2 linked regions of the Homo sapiens genome follow. The protein of the gene in region 1 purifies or fractionates together with the protein of each later gene. This does not show direct contact. Each region holds a gene or a part of one and is shown in the gene's direction. Other genes may lie near its edges.

Region 1 (4,451 bases):
GGAGATTAAAGGCAAGATGGAGTTGGTTAGGTCAGAGCTCTTTCACTGACATAATTTTCTGTCATAATTTTTGCAAAGGCAGTTTCAAGCCAGTACTCAGATTCCCATAGCCCTTTGCCCTGCCATGATCCTTTGAGGCTGAGGTGGGAGAATCACTTGAACCCCGGAGTTCCAGAGCAGCCTGGGCAACATAGTGAGACCCTCATCTCTGCAATGAACAATTATCTGGGTGTGGTGGCACAGGCCTGTAGTACCAGCTACCTGGGAAGATCTCTTGAGCCCAGTAGGTTGAGGCTGCAGTGAACTGTGATGGAGTCACTGCATTCTAGCCTGGGTGAGAAACCATTATCCTGTCTCAAAACGACAAAAAACAAACATACAGTCACCTCTTTGCTAGCTCAGGGGATCCTGGAGAAAACGTGCAGAATGAAAAAGGAGAGTCTGGGTGGCGTGGATTACATGCCTGTAATCCCAGCACTTTGGGAGGCAAGACAGGTGGATCCCTTGAGCTCAGGAGTTCAGCCTGAGCCACATGGTGAAACCGTGTTTCAAAAAAAAAACTACAAAAATTAGCTGGGCATAGTGGCATGTGCCCGTGATCCCAGCTACTCGGGAGGCTGAGGTGAGAGGATCACTTGAGCTGGGGAGGCAGAGGTTGCAGTGAGCCAAGATTGCGCCACTGCACTCCGGCCTGGGCAACAGAGCGAGATATTGTCCGGGAAAAAAAAAAAAAAAAAAGGAAGGAAAAAAAAAAAGAAAGAAAAAGGGGAAGATACACTGGAACACAAATGCTTCTTAAGGGGCGCAGTGGCTCACTTCTGCAATCTTGGCACTTTCGGGGGCCGAGGCTGGTGGATCACGAGGTCAGGAGTTCGAGACCAGCCTAGTCAACATGGAAAAACCCCGTCTCTACTAAAACTACAAAAATTAGCCGGGCGTGGTGTCGGGCGCCTGTAATCCCAGCTACTCGGGAGGCTGAGGCAGGATAATCGCTTTAATCAGGAAGGCGGAGGTTGCAGTGAACCGAGATCGTGCCATTGCACTCCAGCCTGGGCGACAAGAGTGAAACTCCGTCTCAAAAAAAAAAAAAAAAAAAAAAAAAAAAAAAGAGGAAGAACAAAGGTCCCAAGAGTTGGACCCAGGTTGTAGGGCTGGAATAAAAAATAAAATACAAACTTGTGCCTGATCCAGAAACCCGGGCGGGAGTTGGGTCAGACAGAAGAGCGTGGGCTGGGATTAGCTACCACGAAAAGGAACGGTGGCCAGGCTCCAGGAGACGCTGGAGCGCCGGGCCCGTCGTGGGCGTGGTCTGGGCAGACTCAGCGTTGCCTTTTGCCTCTCCAAAACGCAGCATCGCGTCTCGGGGGAGGAGTCTGTACCCTCGTGATGTCCCCGCCCCGGTTCCCAGGCAAGTTTAGGGAAGTGAAAGGCGCCAGGTGCCAGTCCTGGCCTCTGATGTAACCCAGCGCCCCGCAGTCCCGACACAGATTCCTGGATCTCAGCCCCATAGCAGCTATGATCCCGCTGCTGCTGGCAGCGCTGCTGTGCGTCCCCGCCGGGGCCCTGACCTGCTACGGGGACTCCGGGCAGCCTGTAGACTGGTGAGTGCGCAGCGGGGGGCCTACCATCGCCCCGGGGTCCGGCTGCGGTCACTCAACCGGGATGGCTACCTCCTCGGGGAACCCTGGGGTGCCTTCTCTTCCCTCTCTCCTATTTCTGTGCATTCTCCGACCTCCAGGTTCGTGGTCTACAAGCTGCCAGCTCTTAGAGGGTCCGGGGAGGCGGCGCAGAGAGGGCTGCAGTACAAGTATCTGGACGAGAGCTCCGGAGGCTGGCGGGACGGCAGGGCACTCATCAACAGCCCGGAGGGGGCCGTGGGCCGAAGCCTGCAGCCGCTGTACCGGAGCAACACCAGCCAGGTGAAGGGGGCCCCGGGCCAACTAGGGGCGAAACTCTAGGGCTGCCCTGCCTGGGAGGAATTTCACGTTGCCTCCGTTTATCCGCCCGCAGCTCGCCTTCCTGCTCTACAATGACCAACCGCCTCAACCCAGCAAGGCTCAGGACTCTTCCATGCGTGGGCACACGAAGGGTGAGGCCTGGATTGGGGGCTGGGGAGAGACTCGGGTCCCATTTTTCCAAGGTAACCCCTGACGTGCATGGGGTGGTCGGGGAGATCTGCACTGTCAGACCCTGGGCATCTATTCCCCCCAACTTTTTTTTTTCTTTGTTTTTGAGACGGTGGGAGTTCGCTCTGTCACCCAAGCTGGAGTGCAGTGGCACAATCTTGGCTCACTGCAATCTCTGCCTCTGGGGTTGAAGCAATTCTCCTGTCTCAGCCTCCCAAGTAGCTGGTATTAAAGGCGCACCATCACACCAGGCTAATTTTCATATTTTTAGTACAGACGAGGTTTCACCATGTTGGCCAGGCTGGTCTCGAACTCCTGGTTTCTACCTCAAGTGATCTACCCGCCTTGGCCTCCCAAAGTGCTGGGATTACAGGAATGAGCCACCCTGCCCAGCCGAGTTCCTATGCATTTTTCCAAGCTAACCCCTGACCTCCATAGTGGGGTGGGAGATCTCCCCTGTCAGACCTTGGGCATCTATTTCCCCTATTTTATTTTCTTTTAGACAAGGTCTCACCCAGTCACCTAGGCTGGAGTGCAGTATCACAGCTCACTGCAGCCTTGACCTCCCAGGGCTCAGGTGATCCTCCTACCTCAGCCTCCCAAGTACTGGGCCTGCCGGTACCCCCCACCACGCCTGGCTTTTTTTTTTTTTTTTTTTTTTTGCGGCACTCTCTCTCCATCACCCAGGCTGGAGTTCGGTGGTGCAATCTCAGCTCACTGCAATCTCCATCTCCCCAGTTCAAGCGATTCTTCTGCCTCAGCCTCTGGAGTAGCTGGGATTACAGGTGTGCGCCACCATGCCCAGCTAAATGTTGTATGTTTTAGTAGAGATGGGGTTTTACCAGGTTGGACAGGCTGATATTGAACTCCTGACCTCAGGTGATCCACCTGCCTTGGCCTCCCAAAGTGCTGGGATTACAGGCGTGAGCCACCACACCTGGCCTACTTTTTGTATTTTTGTAGAGTGGGCTTTTGCCATGTTGCCTAGGCTGGTCTCTAAGTCCTGGTTCAAGCAATCCACCCACCTTGGCCTCTTAATGTGCTGCGATTACCGGCATGAGCCGCCACACCTGGCCTGTTTCCCTACCTTACATTACTCTTGGCGTTATTCTGGACTATAAGAATTTATGCCTGCAAAAACTGAGCTCAGCTGTGGTTCTAACACTGCTGGCACCCTCTCTAAGCCCCGCTGCAAACTGAGGGTGTTCCTGATTGCAGATGAGCTTGCTGGGAGGCCTGGAGCAATACCCTCTAATTGCCTTTTTTTTTTTTTTTTTTTTGAGAAGGAGTTTTGCTCTTGCTACCCAGGCTGGAGTGCAATGGTGCAATCTCGGCTCACTGCAACCTCCGCCTCCTGGGTTCAAGTGATTCTCCTGCATCAGCCTCCCGAGTAGCTGGGATTACAGGCATGCACCACCATGCCCGGCTAATGTTGTATTTTTAGTAGTGATGAGGTTTCTCCATGTTGGCCAGGCTGGTCTTGAACTCCCGACCTCAGGTGATCCGCCCTCCTCGGCTTCCCAAAGTGCTGGGATTACACTGCGTGGGGCCTGCCTTCTTTTTTTAAATTTTTATTTATTTATTTATTTATTTATTTATTTACTTACTTACTTACTTATGTTTGAGATGAAATTTTGCTCTGTGGCCCAGGCTGGAGTGCAGTGGTGGATCTCAGCTCACTGCAACCTCCACCTCCTGGGTTCAAGCGATTCTCCTGCCTCAGCCTCCTGAGTAGCTGGGATTACAGGCGTCCACCACCACGCTCAGCTAATTTTTGTATTTTTAGTAGAGATGGGGTTTCGCCATGTTGGCCAGGCTGATTTCTAACTCCTGACCTCAGGTGATCTGTGTGTCTCGGTCTCCCAAAGTGCTGGGATTACAGGCGTGAGCCACTGCGCCCGACCTCCCCTAATGCCTTCTTTTGGTCCAGGTGTCCTGCTCCTTGACCACGATGGGGGCTTCTGGCTGGTCCACAGTGTACCTAACTTCCCTCCACCGGCCTCCTCTGCTGCATACAGCTGGCCTCATAGCGCCTGTACCTACGGGCAGACCCTGCTCTGTGTGTCTTTTCCCTTCGCTCAGTTCTCGAAGATGGGTAAGTCGAGTCAGGGACACAGGATGAGTCCTGGGTTTACTGACCAGAACCTGGAACGATCTTGCATTTCCTCCTCCCCTTGTCCTCCAGGCAAGCAGCTGACCTACACCTACCCCTGGGTCTATAACTACCAGCTGGAAGGGATCTTTGCCCAGGAATTCCCCGACTTGGAGAATGTGGTCAAGGGCCACCACGTTAGCCAAGAACCCTGGAACAGCAGCATCACACTC
Region 2 (3,890 bases), on another chromosome or scaffold:
CTATTTGAAGTTTCTTATGAGTGATTTTGTCCTTTCCTTTTTAGGACTGGTCTTTGATGTGTCCAAATGAGTGTCCTGGTCTGGATGAGGTTTGGGGAGAGGAATTTGAGAAACTATATGCAAGGTATGGGAAAAATATGAAAGAAAACAATAATGTTTTAATCATGGTTTCTCTTATTTCAGGGGTCCAAATATCAAAAGTACTTGTCAAGAATCTTTTGAAGCATCTAAGAGAAAAAGTGACTAATAATTTTGGTCAGATTTGCTTCCTGACTCTTCACCAAAATTGAGTTGTGTCTTCTTCTTTCTTAAAACTTTGGAATGTATAAATAGGTTCTTGGGATTTTTAATTGATCCTTTTAAAATTTAAGATGACTAGTAGGGTTATTATTTTGCTCTGTCATATAGTACTTTTGATAAGCTATGCTTTATGTTGCATAAAGGAATCATGAGTGACTAGGACACATATGTCAGTAGTTTATTAAAATTAAATAGGTCAGGTGCAGTGGCTCACATCTGTAGTCTCAGCACTTTGGGAAGATGAGGCAGGTGGATCATTTGAGGTCAGGAGTTCAAGACCAGCCTGGCCAACATGGTGAAACCCTGTCTCTAGTAAAAATACAAAAATTAGCTGGGCGTGGTGGTGCACACCTGTAGTCCCAGCTACTTGGGAGGCTGAGGTAGGAGAATTGCTTGAACCTGGGAGGTGGAGGTTGCAGTGAGCTGAGATTGTGCCACTGCACTCCAGCCTGGGTGATAGAACGAAACTCCGTCTCAAAAAAAAAAAAAGGAAAAAAATTTAGCACAGTCTTAAGAGATTTGGCTTCCTTAGTTTTTACTCCTTTTTATTATGAAAGATATTATTGGTTTAGTGGGATTGCGATCATCTGAAGGCACCTAAAACTGCCTCATTTTCCCCTATGGCTTTAGCTAGAGTAAAATAAATATCATATTCCTTTTTTTCTTTAGCAAAACTTAGAGAAAATTTAAGAGTTTTCATAACTTTATATTTTAATGTCTTCAAGTTGTCTACAATAAAGTTTTTTTAGGGAATATATATTAAATAATATTATCTGTGCCTTTCAGTTATGAGAAACAAGGTCGTGTCCGCAAAGTTGTAAAAGCTCAGCAGCTTTGGTATGCCATCATTGAGTCTCAGACGGAAACAGGCACCCCGTATATGCTCTACAAAGATTCCTGTAATCGAAAGAGCAACCAGCAGAACCTGGGAACCATCAAATGCAGCAACCTGTGCACAGAAATAGTGGAGTACACCAGCAAAGATGAGGTAGGTAGAAAAAATTCTTCCTAGAGTACTAAGAAGAGAACCTTAGGCAGTTATTATTTGTGAATTCCTCACTTGATTTCACTTGAGATAAGTGAAGGGAGTTTGCATAGTTGTAAGCAGAAGAACACTGTTAAAGGCAGAGAGCAAAGGAAGGAAAGGGTATGATCTGTGCCTATAAATGTTTTTTAGTCTAAGCCGTGTGGGAAAGACACAGTTTTTTCTTATACACACATCACTGTAATAACATTTACTCAAGAAAAATAGAAATATACAGTTATGTTAGTTTAGGACACACACAAAAATGTGTTAGGATGTACATTCAATTTAAACTATGTAAGCCTTGAGCCTGGAAAGTGGAGGCTGCAGTGGGCTGAGATTGTGCCACTGTACTCCATCCTGGGCGACAAAGTGAGACCCTGTCTCAAAACAAACAAACAAAAAACCAAAAACAACAACAACAAAAGTATGTAAGCTTATAAAGAGAGTCCTTTCAGTGAATGGTGAGATCAAATTCTAATCTCAAGTCTGTAAAGAGACTTCACAGAAGAATCAAGGCTAGAAATGGGACATGGATTTGGTGTTTTAAAAAAAAGTTTGAGAGAGGAGCTTTCCATTTGGAAAGAGTGGTCTGTATGATACACCAGAGACAGGGCTGGGTTTTATGCAGTGTGGCAAGTAAGTCTGTTTTGATGGTGCAAGTAGATTAATTATTGGAATATGGAGAGATGGCTATGGCTGGGGGAAGGGAGATAGAAGGTAGAAGCTGACACGTCACGGATAGGTAGCCCTTGTAGGTTTCTGAGAGGAAAATAGCATCAAAATGTTAAGATGAAAAGGAAGGTTCTTGCTTCTGGTTACAGAGTGTCTTGCTGTGAGAAGGGATTAGAGGTTAGCCTAGGGAGATTGTTGTACTAGTTGGATGACAGGCTGCTTTGATCTTGGATGTAAACTATGGAAACGAGGAAGGAGTAGATCCTCAATTCTAGGACCTTAAAAAAAAAGACAAATGAAAAGTCAGGAAGTAAATGGAAAGTGAGTTAAATATACTGCTAAGGTTACAGTTTAATTCAAAATTTATTGTGCAGTAGCTATATGTAAAACACAATGTTAAGTGCTCTGAGAATATAAATAAATATGCTGCCCTCTGGAAACTTCTAATTTAGTTGGAAGACATCGACATATATTGAGGTAACTATTATGCAAGACAGATTATATTATAGAGGCTAGAGTGACATTTTTAAAATAAAAATCAGATAATGTCATTTGTCTGCACAAAACTACTCTTTGGCTTGCTAACCCATGCAGAATTCCTTTTTTTTCGGGGGGCGTCAAGATTTCACTCTGTTGCCCAAGCTGGGCTGTGGCTCACTGCAACCTCAACAGAGTTCTTTCTTTTTGCAAATTGAGCTATAATTCACTCTTTTTAAAATGTACAATTCAGTGTTTTTTTTCTTTTCTTTTCTTTTCTTTTTTTTAGTATATCTGCAAGTCTGTGCAACCATTACCACTATCTAATTGTAGTATTTATTTATTTTATTTTTTTTTTTTTGAGACAGAGTCTTGCTCTGTCACCAGGCTGGAGTGTAGTGGCTCGATCTCGGCTCACTGCAACCTCCGCCTCCTGGATTCAAGCGATTCTCCTGCCTCAGCCTCCCGAGTAGCTGGGACTACAGGCGCGTGCCACCACACCCAGCTAATTTTTGTATTTTTAGTAGGGACGAGGTTTCACTATGTTGGCCAGGATGGTCTCAATCTCTTGACCTCGTGATCCGCCCACCTCAGCCTCCCAAAGTGTTGGGATTACAGGCGTGAGCCACCGTGACCGGCCTGTAGTACATTTTTATCACTGTAGATAATGAAACCCTTTATCCATTAGCAGTCACTCCCTGTTCCCTTCTTCCCTCAGCCCTTGACAACCACTAATATATTTTCTGTCTCTAGATTTGTGGACATTGTGGACATTCCATAGGAATGGAGTCATATAATATGTGGCCTTTTGTGTCAGGCTTCTTTCACTTAACATGTTCTTTTATTCATGTTGTAGCATGTATCAGTACTTCATTCCTTTCCATCCAGAGTTCTTACAGTGCCCTACAAGGTCCTACACAACTGGATAACCCACCTCATCTGCGGTTACTTTCCCCTTTGTTCACTTTGCTCCAACCCTATTAATTTTCTTGCTTTTTCTCAAACATGTCAACCATGCTCCTACCTCAGGATTTTTGCTCCTTCTTCCCTCTTGAATGTTAAAATGCACCCCCTCTTCCCATAGCCACATGATTTGCTTTCTAACCTGTTCAGTTCTTTGTTCATATGTAACATTTTCAATGAGGTCCTTCTTGACAATTCTGTTTAAAAATTATACCCCCTTCATCTTTATCCCCAGTACTCTCTGTCTTCTTTTCCTGCCTATTTTTCTTCCTGGCATTTATTAGACTTCTGTGATTCAAGCTATATTTAAAAAAATGGGTATTTGGCAACATGTGTAGAATGGAGTAGATGTGAAGGGCATCAAGAGTTCAACTGGGAAACTTTCAGTAGTCCATGTGAGAGAAGTTAAGACTTTGGCTTGGGATAGTCATAATCAAAATGGAAAAGAAAG

What was found. Proteins that work in one complex are often made in the same cells at the same time.
Region 2: the proteins of DNASE2 (region 1) and RRM1 fractionate together in Homo sapiens (co-fractionation; one large-scale study listed by BioGRID). This does not show direct contact.

Annotation. Positions count from the first base shown.
Region 1 is NC_000019.10:12,878,440-12,882,890, reverse strand, and holds the start of DNASE2 (deoxyribonuclease-2-alpha precursor), read left to right. Parts: upstream 1-1,441; 5' UTR 1,442-1,515; coding exon 1,516-1,601; intron 1,602-1,738; coding exon 1,739-1,919; intron 1,920-2,010; coding exon 2,011-2,089; intron 2,090-4,056; coding exon 4,057-4,221; intron 4,222-4,311; coding exon 4,312-4,451.
Region 2 is NC_000011.10:4,122,097-4,125,986, forward strand, and holds part of RRM1 (ribonucleoside-diphosphate reductase large subunit), read left to right. Parts: intron 1-44; coding exon 45-124; intron 125-1,086; coding exon 1,087-1,288; intron 1,289-3,890. UniProt on the Homo sapiens protein: Provides the precursors necessary for DNA synthesis. Catalyzes the biosynthesis of deoxyribonucleotides from the corresponding ribonucleotides.